2 separate regions of the Homo sapiens genome follow, and region 2 is linked to region 1. Evidence: fine-mapped expression QTL. Tissue or cell type: whole blood. Region 1 holds a variant in brackets; the other region holds the start of a gene. All regions are shown on one strand. Distances are between the middles of the regions.

What was found. PIP is the estimated chance that this variant, and not a neighbour inherited with it, causes the effect.
Region 2: SLC8A1 starts here. The variant in region 1 is fine-mapped to the expression of SLC8A1 in whole blood (TOPMed, PIP above 0.99).

What each region holds. Positions count from the first base shown.
Region 1 is chr2:40,522,257-40,530,445 of GRCh38, forward strand. All of the region lies in intron 1 of LOC101929667 (a long non-coding RNA gene), which reads left to right. Among named protein-coding and RNA genes, the nearest start is that of SLC8A1, 74 kb to the left of the region's middle. The variant G/A (reference allele first, on the strand shown) is at 4,476.
Region 2 is chr2:40,448,906-40,457,094 of GRCh38, forward strand. It overlaps SLC8A1 (solute carrier family 8 member A1), which reads right to left and starts at 3,185. Exons shown (of 11, transcript NM_021097.5): 1 at 2,999-3,185.

The DNA of each region.
Region 1 (8,189 bases):
TATTAGCTGACAAGGCCAATCTAAGTAAGGATTTATTTTGGCCAAAACTTACCATTTGTCTACTTTACAAGTGAAGTGAAAGGATGAATCAAACTGGAGGCCACTATTTTCAGCAAAACAATCAATGCAGAAACAAGAATTCAAATGCCGCGTATTCTCACTTATAAGTGAGAGCTTAAAATGTGTACACATGAACATAGAATGGGGAATGATAGACATTGGAGATTTGGGAGGGCGGGAGGGTGGGAAGGGGTGGGAGATGAGAAATTACTTGATGGGTACAATGTGCATTATTCGGGTGATTAATGCACTAAAAGCCCAGGCTTCACTACTATGTGATTTATTCATGTAAGAAAACTGCACATGTACTCCTTAAATTTGTACAAATTAAAAAAAAAAAAAAAAAGGAAAAAGGAAGCAAACAAACAAAAAACAAAACAACTAAAAAAGGCACACGTGGTCAGACCCCAGAGCTGTTTTCGGGATCACCTGGGGAAATAATGCGGCAATTATCACATCAGCCTCCACTTTTACAATGGACAACTAATTTTAAGAATTATCCTATTTCCAGGATATAGTACACATCTCTGCCAGTTTAAGCTTCCATAGACATGCTTTTATCAAGCACCTTCAGCGTCCAGATTATAGGGTTACATTGTCTTCTCAATTTTTGCTGTAATTCTTATTTTTGGAAATTTCCACGTTGTTGTTGGTAGTATTCCATTACATGGGATATGCCATAGTTTGTTTAACCATTCACCTGTTGAAGAACATCTGAGTTGTTTTCACTGTCTAGCTATCACACATAAAACTACTGTGGACATCTGTGTAAGGTTTTTATGTAAACATAAACTTTTCATTTCTCTAGGATAAATGTCCAGGATTATAGCTGCTGGGTCATATGGTGGCAGCATGTTTAATATTTTAAGAAACTTCCTGTCTTCTAGAGTGCCTATATAATTTTACATTCCAAGCAGCAACATATGATTGATCCAGTTTTCCTATAACCTTGTAATCATTTGGTTACAAGCTATTCTGGTTAGTATATCTCTCATTGTGGTTTTAATGTGCATTCCTCCAGTGGCTAATACTTGATCAACTTTTTATGTGCTTATTTGCCATATGCTCTTTGATCAAATGTCAATTTTTTCGCCCATATTTTAATTAGATTTTTCAAACTGTTGATTTTGAGTTTTCAGATATTAGTCCTTTGAAAGGTATATTACTTGTAAATATTTTCTCCTGTCTATAGATTACCTTTTTATTTATTTAAGAGACTTTCACAGAGGATTAGTTTTAAATTTTTATAAAAATTCACCAATTTTATCATTTATGGATTATTTTTGGTGCTTAATTAAGAAAAACCTTTGCCTCGCTCTAAACCCTGAAGATTGTTCGTATTTTTTTCTAAAACTTTTATATTGTTATGTTTTACATTTAAGTTTATGGTCTATTTTGAGTTAATTTTTGCAGAAGTTGTGAGACTTAAGGTGAATTAGCTTCAAAATATTAATTGGAAGCGTTCATCTTCTTCTATTTTATGGCAGACATTGTATAGAATCGGTGTGAATTTTTCTTTAAACATTTTGTTGAATTTTCCAGTGAAACCATCTGTGCCTGGAGATGGTTTGGGGGAGGAATTTTAAAACTACATATTCAACTTTATTAGTAGTTAGAGAGTTATTCAAGTGATCTGTTTTGTATCAGATAAATTGTGGTAATTTGTGTTTTTCAAGGAATTGATTCTCTTTCTTGGTGGTATTTTTAAGTCCTATCTCTTTGCTGATAATATATCCAGTTATTCCATCAGTTTTTGAGACGAGTGTTGAAGTCTCTAACTGTAGTTCTTGATTTGTCTATTTCTTGTTTCAATTCTAAGATACACATTTAGGATTGCAATATTTTCTTGGTTGATTGACCCTTGTCATTCTCTGTCTCTGCTGCTTTGCTTTGCTTTGAAGCCTACTGCATCTGCAATAATTATAGCCACACTTGCTTTTTTTGAGTAATGCTTGCATGATGTGTATTTTCCCCTCATTTCTTTTAACTTTCCTATATTGTTGCATTTGAAGTGAGTTTCTTGTAGACAGGATCATGTCTTTTAATCACCTCTGCCAATCTCTGGCTTTTAATTGATGTATTTAGAACATTTACGCCATTAATGCAAGTATTAATATGCTAGAGTTGAGTTTCTCTTTTTTTGTTGTTTTCCATTTGTTTTCTTTGTTTTTCATTTACTGTTTTTTCTGCTTTCCTTTACATTTATGAAACTTTCTAAAAATTCAATTTTTATTTATCTTTAATGTTTTGAATATATCTCTTTGTATTGTTGTCTTCATGATTATTTTAGGTGTTACTATATATTATGTATAGATAACTTATAACAGTCTACCAGTGTCATCATTTTGTTTGTTTGAGTGAAATTTGGAAGCTCTACCTTTCTTTATATCTTTTTACACTCCCACATTTATATTACAATTATCTTAAGTATTTTTTTCTACATAGATTTAAAATAATACCAGGTAGTTTTATAATTTTTACTTCAATTATAAAACATAATTTAGAAAACAGAAGAGGAGAATAAAATTGTATTGAATTTACTTGTAGTTTTGTTTACCATGTTCTTCCCTCTTTCCTGATATTTGAACATTCCTTTTTTTTAAAAAAAAAAACAAAACTATTTCCTTTCTGTTTAAAGAACATCATTTAGCTGTTCTTTTAGGAGACGTCTACCAGCAAGCATTGCCTCTGTTTTTTTTTGTTTGTTTGTTTGTTTTAGTCTACACATATATTAATTTCCTGTTCATTTCTGAAAGATATTTTCACTAGGTATAGAATCCTGGCTTAAGAGATTATTTTCTATATCACTTTAAAAATTATCTGCCACTTCTTTCTGTCTTCCATAGTTTCTGGTGAGAAATCCACTGTCATTCAAGTTGTTTTTTCCTTAGAAAGAAAAGTATTATTTCTTTCTCACAACTGTTGAGATTTTTTTCTTTTCCTTTAGTTTTCAGAAGTTTCACTATGTAGCTTTTTTTGTGTATGTGTGAGAGATTATCCTGTTTGGGATTCATTCAGCTTCTTGAACTGTAGATTTACATCTTTTGTCAAATTTGGGCAGTTTTCAGCCATTATTTCTTCTATTTCTAATTTCTCAGCATCATCCTTTTTCTCCTCTCCTTCTGAGTCGTCAATGACCCAAAGTCAGATTATAGTTCCACATATCCATAAGGGTATACTGTTTTCCAGCCTGTTTTCTCTTTGTTGTGTAAATTTGGTAATTTTTATATTTTTCTTCTAATTACCTTCTAATTTACTAATTTTCCCTTTGCCTCCTCCATTCTGCTGTTAAGCTCATCCATTAAGCTTCTTACATTATAATATTTTTCAACTCTAAACTTTTCATTTTTCTTCTTTATATCTTTTATATTTTTGCTGAGACTTTGCATGGTTTCATTTGTTTCAAGCATGTTTGTAATTGCTCATTGAAATGTTTTCATAATGGTTGCATTAGATATTTGGTCGATTATCCTAATATATTTGTCTTCTCATAGCTTGCATCTTGGATTGTCTTTTCTTCACTTATTCAGAGATCTTCCTAGTTCTTGATATGATAAGTAATTTTTGACAGAAATATGTACAGTTTGAGCTTTATATTATAACACTGAATCTCACATAAATCTCTGTATTAACTTGATTCCTCTGACACGATGCTGGTGGGGATGGGGAATTGCTGGCTAATTATTACCAAGTGGGAGTTAATGACAAGGTTCTCTACTAGACCTCCATTGACACCAGAGGAATGGGTCTTCATTATCGCTGATTGTAGGTAAGAGAGTTGGCTCTCCACTAGGCCTCCACTGATACTCCCTAGTGGGAGAAGTTATAGTGACTCATTGTACTAAATGCTTCCCCTATGGTATCCATGACACCAAGAGGGAGAAGTAACACCATTACCATTGGACAATGGTGAAAGTTCTGCCTCTCTCTATGCCTCCACAATCACCCTAGTGAGGAGAAGTAGGGATGGCTCATACTACTTGATGGGTGTGGAAATCCAGGCTCTCCAAGTGGTCTCTCTCCATTGACCCTCACTGGGGCATGAGATGGTTGTAGGTGGTGACTATGAAGGTCCCAACTCCTTACTCAGTCTTCTCTGGCAGCACCTTGGCAGATGTTATGGGACCCTCATGACAGACTGGGGACGATGGAAGTCTAAGTGTTCTACTTGGCCTTTGTTGGCATTTGTTGAGGTGCTAGTCAGCTGAAGTAAGAAGTTATTGTCTAAAATTTCTCTGTCTTTCCATTCAACTCCTTTATTTGTCCTTTGGCCAAAGACAGCAGACTTGTGTTTGGGCTTTTTCTTTTTTTTTCTTCTTATCTCTGGCTTTAAGTCTGGGATATATGATATAAAGAGGATGAAAGGGAACTCATTATCATGTCATTTATGGGTTTTAAGACCCCCTTACTAGCCC[G/A]CTTTCTTCTCTCTACTTCTCAGAGTTTTATGTTCATTTTTGTATAGTGTCTTGGGTTTTTAGTTGTACTTAGTGTGAGAAATAGGGAAACGTATGTCTATTCCATCTTTTTGGAAGGAGAAGTTTCAACCAACTATGTCTTCAGAAGTACTTACTCATTTTTCTACCACAAAGTACACGTAAAACTAGTTGTGTTTGCCCTATGGCTGGGGGAATCAAATGCCTCATCCCTTTAGTTAGCATTAGATTTGATAAGTATTCCCAGGAAGAAGACAAATGAGAAAATATAAACAAAACAAACAAACAAACAAAATGGATTGCAACTTTAAAGGATGATATATAAATTTGAGCATAATAGGAGCTATTCAGAAGTTTAAGTTAAAAATTATTGGCCAGGCACGGTGGCTCACACCTGTAATCCCAGAACTTTGGGAGGCCTAGGTGGGTGGAACATGAGGTCAGGAGTTCGAGACCAGCCTGACCAACATGGTGAAACTCTGTCTCTACTAAAAAAATTAAAAAAACCAAAAAAATAAAAAATTAGCTGGGCGTGGTGGTGCACGCCTGTAATCCCAGCTACTCAGGAGGCTGAGGCAGAAGAATTGCTTGAACCTGGGAGGCAGAGGTTGCAGTTAGCCGAGATTGTGCCATCGCACTCCAGCCTGGGCAACAGAGCAAGACTCTGTCTCAAAAAAAAAATATTTACAAGCTTTTTAGCTTTTTAGCATTATGTTGTACTATGTTTCGATTTTCAATCCAGGGATTAAAAAAAATTGAGAAGTCTGGCACTGTGGCATGCACCTGTAGTCCCAGTTACTCAGGAGGCTGAGGTAGGAGGATCACTTGAACCTAGGTACTGGAGACCAGACTTGGCAATATAGTGAGGCCTTGTCTCAAAAAAATAAATAAAAATAAATTAAAAATATGAGAATTCCTGGACATAGCTGTGGATTTTGTGTCAAGTCAGAAAGATTGTGAAAGCATCAATATTATAACCAACCCTATCATACTTAAAATTTAATAGACCTTGGGATTTGGTAATCATTTCCACTGGAATGATTTTAGTCATTACCTTAAAATTTATTATTAACTATTATATTTATTATTTTTATTAATTACCTTAAAATTTTATTAATTACCTCAAACTAATTAGAGTTTCAATAAAATGTTTTAATCCTCACATTTTTGGATGCTAACATTCAAGGCTGAATTCCACAGAAAGTTAAGAATTGTCAGTTTACTTCAATTAACTCCTTAGATAACATTTTTTGTTAAATGTGGCAAAATCTATGTCATTATTTAAAAATACAGTTAATCTACAAATTACAGGTCCACAAGCTTTCTTATGGCTTTCTTCTAAAAATATAGGCCTGTGCTTTCAATTTTAATATCTGACTCGAAGATCAACTAGGTGTCAGGTACAAAACTCAACATCTATTCTAGCTTCTTTTCTATTTCTTTCTCTGCCCTTATTTCATTAATTTTCATGATCACAACTACGATGAATAAGCTTTGAAGTTTTAAATCTTTGTTTCTCTTTACAACACTCTTCCTTCTGTACTCTACATTTCTCACTGTATTTGACCTTTTCTCCAGGAACTACTGCAGTGACCTCAAGTAAAACAAATCCTAATCTAAACTTCCTAACTCTCTCCCAATCAAACCATTTCTCATTGTCTCATTGATTCATTCATTATAAATGGTGGTGCCACTCTTTCAGTCTCTCAAACTGGAAAGTTCAGTGACATTCATTCCTTCTCTACCCACCAAGTATTTAAGTCACCACAAATTCCGTAAGCTCATTACAAATATCTCTTGAATCCAGTAGAATTTTTTTTTCTCACAACACTGTTCCCATGATGTCCATTGTCTCTTTCTTGGAAAGAGTTTCTGCTCTGATTTTTCCAATGTATTCCAAATGAATCCGATATAGGCTTATTTTCCCATTCATCTCAATATATTTTCCTATTCATTCCAAATGAATCCTATATAAGTTCACTTTTCACTTGAGTTACATTTCTAATGTATGAATTCATAATGACATCATCATCAACAATAGTAAATCTCCACATTTATTGTTCGGCTAAAAACATTTCGATCAAGGTTAAATTTCCTCTGCGTTGATATTCCATCCAGTTATGTGTCTTTATAGTAGAATGATTTATAATCCTTTGGGTATATACCAGTAATTGGATTGCTGGAGTCAAATGGCATTTCTGGTTCTAGATCCTTGAGGAACCACCACACCATCTTCCACAACGGCTGAACTAATTTACACTTCCACCAACGGTGTAAAAGTGTTCCAATTTCTCCACATCCTCTCCAGCATCTGTTGTTTCCTGACTTTTTAATGACTGCCATTCTGACTGGTGTGAGATGCTATCTCATCATGGTTTTGACTTATATTTGTGTAATGACCAGTGATGATGAGCTTTTTTTCATATGTTTGTTGGCCACAAAAATGTCTTCTTTTGAGAATTGTCTGTTCATATTCTTTGCCCACTTTTTGATGGGGTTGTTTGTTTTTTTCTTATAAATTTGTTTAAATTCCTTGTAGATTCTGGATATTAGTCCTTTGTCAGATGGATAGATTGCAAACATTTTCTCCCATTCTGTAGGTTGCCTGTTCACTCTGATGATAGCAAAGATTTGGAACCAACCTAAATGCCCAACAATGATAGACTGGACAAAGAAAATGTGGCACATAAACACAATGGAATACTATGCAGCCATAAAAAAGGATTAGTTCATGCCCTTGGCAGGGACATGGATGAAGCTGGAAACCATCGTTCTCAGCAAACTAACACAGGAACAGAAAACCAAACACAACATGTTGTCACTCATAAGTGGGAGTTGAACAATGAGAACACATGGATACAGGGAGTGGAACATCACACACTGGGGCCTGTTGGGGGGTAGGGGGTAAGGGAAGGGATTTCATTAGGAGAAATACCTAATGTAGATGAGGGGTTGATGGGTGCAGCAAATCACCATGGCACATGTATACCTATATAACAAACCTGCAGGTTCTGCATATGTATCTCAGAACTTAAAGTATAATAAAAAAATAAAAGAAAAGCTCTACATGACAGCTTAAGGGGATTAGAATTTACCAGAGCCAATGGGGAGCCAGAAGGTTTTTTCAAACAAGTAAGTGAGAAATTTGAGGTAGGAGGGGGCTTTCTGTTGTTATTGATACTAATTTGTGATTTAGTAAATATTTTGGTTAATTTACTGTTAACCATCATTGTCTCTCTTTTCTCTAACAGAAAAATAGACCGCTAGCCTTGTAAGACGGTAGTTTTCATTGATGTGTGAAAGATTTTTTTCCTAAGTTCAGCTAGGTTTTATTAGTCAAGATAGCTGTCATTTTTTTCCCTTAACAATGTCTCTTTATGTAAATTTATTCTCCATTTTGATTGCTACTATTCTATTTCAGGCCCTTATCACCTCACATCCAAATAGCTGCAGAAAGAGAGAGAAGAAGAAAGGAAGTAAAAAATGAAGGAAGGGAGGAGTAGGACTATGTTCAGACACCCTCCCTAGGTCAATTAAATCAGAATTTTGGAGAAATGGTCAAGGCATTCAAAATTTTTCTTTGTGCCACCAGGGTTGAGAGCCATTGCCTTTTTGGTCCCTTTTAATTAGATTAATTTTACCTCTAAACCTTAACACCAAAACTCAATTAACCTTTTTAAGACATAATTTTCAGTG
Region 2 (8,189 bases), 73 kb before region 1:
TAAAGTGACAATTTAATGTTTACTTGAAAGCAACATACTACGAAAATATAAAACATGCAACATATGTGCTCTAACAGCCTCTTCTAGAGGCTGCATTTCTTTTTCCAGATCTAATTTATATTTCAGTTTGAATTTTGTTTATTGCCATATTTTTAGGGCAGTCTCCTTCTTATCTATATACTATCCTCCCTGTACCTAAAAGGCATCACAAAGAAAGAACTTGTCTCACTGAATTGCAACATTAAAAAAAAAAAACAAAAAACAAAAAACAACAACAAAAAAAAACACACAGACATTAATGTCCCAAAATGCACTTACTTTGAGACAACCACATCTATGAGCTAAATGAATGCCTTGGCTGGCTTTTTAAAGGGGAATTGCAACTTCCTTGGATCTGCACAGCTTTTCTCATCATTTATTTTGTCAAAGAAATAGATTGAATACTAAGAGGAATCATGTGTTTATTTTGCAAGTAAATAAAAGTCTATATTTGCCTGGCAAAAGCATGTTAAACATAGCTTTTTAACAGATGCTGAAGTTCTCTTGGAATATATTTTATTTTTTCAAAACACAGAAAGCTTAACAGAGCAATTAACATAATTCCTGCAAATAGTCCTATAGATGTTACTGACTATACCTCACTTTCCATTTGTAATTTTATTGGGAGTCAAAGCACTGTTACTCCCATGCTCTTTTCTTCCCCTGGTCAACAAAAGGGCTATGTGCTTAATCTGAAACGTTACAGTAGGAACCACTATATAATAATATTAAAGTAAAGACATAGGTAGATAGATACATAGAAAATAAGCCTTCATATTTTAGTTCATTACTCTCCTCCTTCAGCCCTGTTAAGCTTTCAAGACAGTAAAGTCTGATTATCATGACACTCTTACATCCTTTGTAGCCCTATACAGCTCAACAATAAATAATGGTTTATCTCTGTTCAGTCCTTTTTGTTGCTGTTGTTTTTCTAGGAATTAATCATTTTTTTAAAAAAAGACAACAACCATTTTAAGGGGACAAAATCAGGGCTTCTTTTATAGCAGGTGTGAGAAATCTTAGCTAAAGAGCCGTGAGATCCAAATGGAATTCTTCAAGCAGGCAGAATTTGTAAAACGAAAACCATTTAAGAGCACACATCTTGCCTCTTGATGAAATAAGTTGGTCCTCCCCCACCTTCTCACTCACAAGGCCCCAAAGATGGAGCTAGTTTTCCCTTCCTTCCTCCTGCTTTCACACCCGCCTAACCTCCCAATTAAGCAAGTTTAGCAAACCCAGGGAGCTCAATCCAAGTAACACAGGATTTGAAAGAGGAACCTAAAACCAATCATCCCTCTTCCGGCTTTGTCTTCTTATTTGAAATGAATGAAACATCTAGATTCATTTTCCTTTTTTTTTCTGACTCGCTGCAGGAGTAGCTTTGAGAGAGAAAGAGAAAGCATGTGAGTGTGTGTGTGTGTGTGTGCACGCGCGCGCGCTGGTGGGGGCATGGGAAAGAGAGGTATACTTTCAGAATTCTCTCCTGGTGGCTCCCTCTTTCCCTTGGGAAATCTTCGCACAAGTCTCAGATTGTGCATGTTCAACTGCTCATATCTGGAGATACTCCAGCAATGCCTTTAACCAGATCTGATCAGAAATCTCCACCTACTCAGCTAGAGGCTCCTCCATGATCAGGACGCTTGTACTGTCTTCACCACATCTGTCATTTTTTAAAAAGCTTCTTCCACTACACCTCCCACTGATATCCTTTTTTTCTCTTTTTAGTCTTTACACCTCCAGCAGGACAAAGTTTGTATTGTTATATTCACAACCACTAGTAGCTGACTAGCAGGAGAGAGAGAGAGCGGCTTCAGGAGAGCCAGGTTCGGGGGCTTCAAAAGGATACCTAGCGCAAAGCATGACTTTCCAATGACTGCGTACAACATGCACATTGCTCTCTTCTAAAAATGCTTTGTTAAATTTCATCACCCCTGTTCTCAACTCAACCACTACCACTTTGGAGAGGGAAATACAAATTGCCAGCCCAAGCCATTCATCAAACAGCAACAGAATCCACGGGGTGGTGGGGGGGATAGAGAAGAGGCGGGGGTGATGCAGGGGGTGGATTTAAAGAATCAAGGATGCACACGTACTGTATTTTCAAGAGCATCGCCTGGGCGGATTTGGTTTCTTTGGCCGGCTGTCCAGCTATAAGACCGCCCTCTTCTTCATTAAGGAGGAGCCAAAAAGGATATCTTCACATCTCAGAACACAGACCATTTCCCCCAAGAGCCAGCAAAGCTCCAGAGGCAGAGAATGCAGCTGCAAAGTTCCCTTCCAATCTCTTGGGGAAAGATGCCTGTGTGTGCAGAATCCCCAAAGCACACCACGGCACAGTGCCCAGAGACGTGGACCCCGCAGCCCACTCCCTGCTACCCCCTACATTTCTTCCTCGTCTGTCTCTGCCCCGCCACACCTCCCTCCTCTCCGCAGTCCGTGGTGAATGAGCACCCAACGCCCGCTGGAAAACAGGGGGCTCGGAAATGTGGCCTTGGGGAAAGACCCCAGGGATTACCGGAAGGAGGGATGTCCGCGGAGAAGAGTCCAGTGGGTGGGGACGCCTGGATCCCCAGCAGCTCTGCATTCGGGGTGGACTTAGCTCTTCGCGCCCTGAATCCTCAGAGCCCAGCGCGGTGCAGGGTGCAGCATCTCTCCTTAGCAGCCCTTTCTTCCTCCGGCAGCCTGCACTGGCAGGCAGGCAGGCACCCTCACGCCCAGACGCACCAGCCCGAGCAATTTCACTCTGGGAAGCGCGGACACCCAGAAAAATGTGCAGGCGCGCACACACCACATCACACACACACACACACACACACACACACACACACACACACACACACAAATTTAGAAGCCGCTCGTTTGCCAAAGCAGAGGGAAGTGTAGCCTTATGAGCAGCAAATGGAAAATAGTTCTTGGTCTCTGACTAAATGCCTTCTGCCTGTCCATCATAAGATCCTACCTGGTTTGGGGAGTGTGAATGGATTCTTCCTCCGTTCCTCCACGCTAGTAGAAAATACGGCGCACTCCCTCCTTTTAAACAGCTCCCGATCAGGAAGAGGTCGCTCCCATCTTCTGTGGGAAGCACAAAGCAGGCGGCGGCGGCGGGCTGACTACCGTGCAGCGCCGGCGCGAGCGGGAGCCGCGGCAGCGGGCAGCGGTGCGCGCGGGCGGGAGGCAGGCGCGGAGGCCGGGAGGCTGGGAGGGCCGGGGCCCGGGCGCGCGCGCGCTCCCCCTCCCTCCCGCGCACACTCGCCCGCCCGCCGCCCGCAGCCTCGCACTCGCTCACACGCGCGCTCGGCCCCGCGGCTGCCGGGCGCCCCGGGGCCCCCTGCGCGCCCCTTGGGCTCCCCAGGCGATCGCGTCGGGGCAAAGCCGGCGCGTTTCTGGAGCACCGAGCGGGTGGGGAGCCCTTCCAGCCTCCCAGCCTCTGCCGGCGAGCAGCTTTTTCGATTTCCTGCCGGCTCTCGGCCCCGCAGTGCGTTGTGGCCGCGCGCTAGCGCTGTCTCTCGCACCCAGCCCATCGATGACACGCGCACACAGGCGCTGCAACTTTTCTTTTGAACCCTCTTCTTCTCTTCCGCAGACAGAACCCTGACCCCCAATTCGCCTACCCGTTTCTCACCTCTGACTTTGTTAATCCAACTATCTTTCTTCCCTCACTTCCTGCCCTTCTGCTAAAGGAAGCTTTCTTTTAGCAAAAGGATCTGGGCATATATCAATGATTTTTTTTTTAATCCTCACCCTGTGTTTTTCTACGTATCAGATATGCACAACTATACGTTGGCTACTAGATGCTGACACAAGCAAACAGAGATATTCGGGGGAGGGTGTCCCCCGGCCAAGAACTGGGACAGAGTCTCTGTGTTGGTATTTCCCTCAAAGATGCGTTTCACCTGGGAATAAAGACCCAGAGTCTGTTTCGTGTGAAAGGCGTGCTGGTTTTAAACTACAGTGAGGAGTAAAAGCCGAGCATTAAGGTTGAGTGGGAAAAAACCTAATGCAGCAATCGACGAACCATTCTTTGCCCTTTCCAAGAGAAGCATTATCATTGCCAATAAATCACTTTCCTCATAATTAATAAAGGAACACTGCACCAGGCCTTTCCTCTCTTGACAGCTCATTCATTCTTACAAACCCTTAATGACTTCACGTGGTGAAAGGCTAGACCTACTGTGGAGTTCACTAGCTTCCAAACCTGGCTGCGCATCACACACACCTGGGAATGTAGTCAGATGCTGTAGAATCTGAGGCCGAATCTGATGCAGACTCTCCCGTTGTAGGTCTCAAATGGGGCTCCAAATTAGTATTTTTAAAACACCAGTTGCTATCGGCCACTGGTGTCGTTTGCCAAGGTGTGTGGGGGGGTCAGGAGCAGCTACTTGGGGAAGGTGGGAGAAGGAGGGACCTGCAGAGCACAAGGCAGAAAGTTAGTTTTTTTTCGTGGAGACGTCCCCCCATACTTACAGTGCAACCAGGGCAGTCACCACGACTGATAGATTCTGACTCCAGGAACCTCAGTTTGCCTCCGCAACAAAGAGGGGGCGGAATGGAAGAAATAGCCTCTTCTGCCCCTGTGCCAGTGGCTCTCAACCCTCCTTGCACCTCAGAATCTCCTGGGCCGTTTTTAAAAATCCCAGTGCTTAGGCCACACCCCCAAACTGATTAACTTTGACTCTCTGCAGGTGGGCCCCAGACAGCCTTAATTTGTTTTTAAGATGCCTGGTTGATTCCTATGTGCAATGAAGGTTGAGAACCACTGCTCTAGGCCAATACTCCTCAAACATGAATGTGAGTATGAATCACATGGGGATTGCAGATTCTTTTTCAATAGACCTGGAGCAGGCCTGGGGTAGGCAAGTGTTGAAGTGATGCTGAGGCCGTCTGAATGAGGACCTCACTTTAATTAGTCGGGTCTGTTGCCAGCAGTCTTGGATACTGGCTTTGTAGAGGACACTCTAAGCTGCTTCACGTCTTATAAAATTTGCAGGAATCGTTCTTGCCTAAGAACATTTTTCTTTCCTTGCTATAAGTTAAATTTTCTTGGAAGCTACTTTCCACACCAACTTGGTTAGACTACACTTACTAGTGGATATAAACAGAATGACCTGTGGGGAGAGACAGAAGGTCACTGTCTCTTTTAGAATATGTCCTCTACCAAAAATTACTTAGAGTCCCTGAATTTAAGGCAGTGTGAGTAGCAGATATTTGGCTCACACTCAATGAAAGGGGCTTGGAGAGAAAAGTGGCTGCCTTCTAAATAACACTAAGGAAAGCTTATAACTAAAGACTCCACTCAATAGGAAATAGAACACAGCCAAATGAAGGAACCAAGAGAAAGCTAAATGAAAATGTGAGTGGGCCATATTTCACTGGAATAGATTTTGTGGAAAGAGTGTAGCCTCTTATTGCTATGACGGGCCGCTTAGTGAAAGCTGAGATTTTCTTGAAATTTTAGGCATGTTTGTGACATGGAGTGACAAGAACCCTGTTCTTTAAATGTTTATACTCCAGTGATGCCCAAAGTCTGTCTTAAGACTTTTTTTTTTTTTTTTTTTGCTTTGACCATTGAAACTGAAAGGCTACATCTTGGCCACTTGATTCTTCCTCTTTTCCAATCGAAACTGCTTTTAGACTGATTTGGATTCTTGGGAAAAAAACAATATTAAATGGTCTTCTGTTTATCTAGAACTATTGGAGAGGCAGCCTAGTGCCTAGTGATTTGGCATCCTTTTTGGTTCAGTCAGTTTCTGAGCCCCTAATTTTCTTTGCCTTTCATTTCTCTTTAAAGGCATTTTTATAATGGTTCCAGGGCCCCAAGGCAAATCAAACCTTTTGCTCCCTCCTAAATGTCATACATGAGTGAGTTTTTATTGCGAGAATTATCAAAGGCTGCATCACAGGCACAAGGCTGAGGAAGACTATGGCTCTAAGAAAGGAAAAAGTGAGGCTGCTGCAGTCTGTGGCTTTGGAAAGAAGACATGTTGAATGGAGGAAGGTGGTAATTTACATTCTAATAGCAGTAATGTTTCTTAATTGCAGTCTTCCATATTGATTGCCATTCTTTCCTCTGGACTTGGAATTAAGAGTCACCGGGTCTCCACTGTTATCTAACCAAAGCAATACGACACAACCATTCAGGGGACTCCACAGGGATATCACTAAGATTTGATATATTCGAAAGATGTTCTGATGTTCACAAACTATTTCCTAGGAAACCTTCAGGGGATCTGTTAGCAAACTCATTTTCAGACCAAGTGTAAATATTGTGAATTAGGCCCTACTTTTTATCTAGTCTATAGAAAATTTAGACATGTGATCAGGTTACCAAGATTTTTAAAAATATTTAATACTTTACTAAAGCACTCAATATGTTTTCATCATAGGGAAAACAAGCACAATACTCTGTTTAAATTCCTTTCATTTTTACTTTGAATTACATAAATCAGAGGTACCTCTATTGTCTCTTCCATTGCTTCGGGCTTCTGAAATATGTTAATACAGTCTTAGTCGTCCCTCACCTCATTTCTTACTCTGCCAGCCTTCACTAATCACCTATCTGTTCAGTCACAGGCTCAGTTTCATAGTGATTTCTACATAAGAAAATGTTATTACATAATAGCCCCTAGCCTGGCCAGTGAGTGGAGCTTAGAATTAGCCATTTTTCCATACCTAAGAATCTCAGGTGAACCATTGGGTTCCCAGTTTTGTTCTTTAGGTTTTCTTTGCTGATGAGTAGATCCAGGGTTCTTTGCTTTGGGGATGACTTTGAGAATTCTTTGTTGACTTCTAAGTGCTGTTGTTCCTCTTCCCTGGAGACTTGTTCCTGCAGTTAAACTTTTACTTCTCTGTTTTGTTTTGACCAACTGAACACCACTCTTGTACCTCACCCAGTTGTAAACCCTGCTACTGCACAACAGTCCACAGACTGGGGCAGCCTTCCTGGCAGACTCACAGTCACAACTCTCCTCCTCTCTGCATTACCGTGGGGTCAACCACTTCCTCTGAGTCGCCAATGAATTTGTCACAGTCTTTGGACATCAGGGACCTGCAATTCTACATTTGAGCAACTGATATTAAAGAATTGGGTTTGGGCTGGGCGCGGTGGCTCACGCCTGTAATCCCAGCACTTTGGGAGGTTGAGGCGGGTGGATCACGAGGTCAGGAGATCGAGACCATCCTGGCTAACATGGTGAAATCCCGTCTCTACTAAAAATACAAAAAATTAGCCGGGCGTGGTGGCGGGCACCTGTAGTCCCAGCTACTTGGGAGGCTGAGGCAGGAGAATGGCGTGAACCCAGGAGGCGGAGCTTGCAGTGAGCAGAGATCACACCACTGCACTCCAGCCTGGGTGGACAGAGCGAGACTCCGTCTCAAAAAAAAAAAAAAAAAAAAAAAAGAATTGGGTTTGTACAAAATTCTGAGACTTCTGTTTTTCATTTCTGCCCCTTATTAAATTAAGGAAATATCTAGTCTCTGTCCTGCAACTTTATCAATGGTAACTCAATGGCAGAATCATTATCTAGAGCTATTAATTTAGAGGTCAGAAAATAATAGCAGATTGGTTAAGAGCCAAGGCTTTAGAGTCAGAATATCTGTGTTAGATTTTTCAGATCCAGCTGTGTGACCTTGGGGAAGCTTTTTAACCTCTTAAATCTCAATATCTTTGTTTGGAAAACATGGATCATAAACTCTCCCTCAAGGTGCTGTGGGAAGGATAAAATGTATATAGGATGCTTGGCATAGTTCCTGATCATAGTAATTGCTCAGCAAACGATATTGCTGTTATTATTACTGGTAAAGTTTCATAAACATGATGTCAATGTAAATTTTAAAATTTCTATATAATTAGATTCTACATAATCAGGTCATCCAATTATTGATATTGATTATGCTGTTGTTTTTGTTATACAGAGTTCTATGCAATGAATAATCCAGAAAAATATACATTTCTACATCAAGAGAGTACTTTTCCTCTCTGTAATGAAAAAAGCTGCTTGTGAACTTTCTGATTTTGTAAGTACATAGTGTGGTTAGTGATTGATTAAAAGGGGCAATGAATTCTTCTCTCCTTCACAATAATTCTGTTCCCTTATGTCTGGGTATCAATTTGATCTTATCTCTATTATAAACTGAGGGTAGAATTTCAAAGA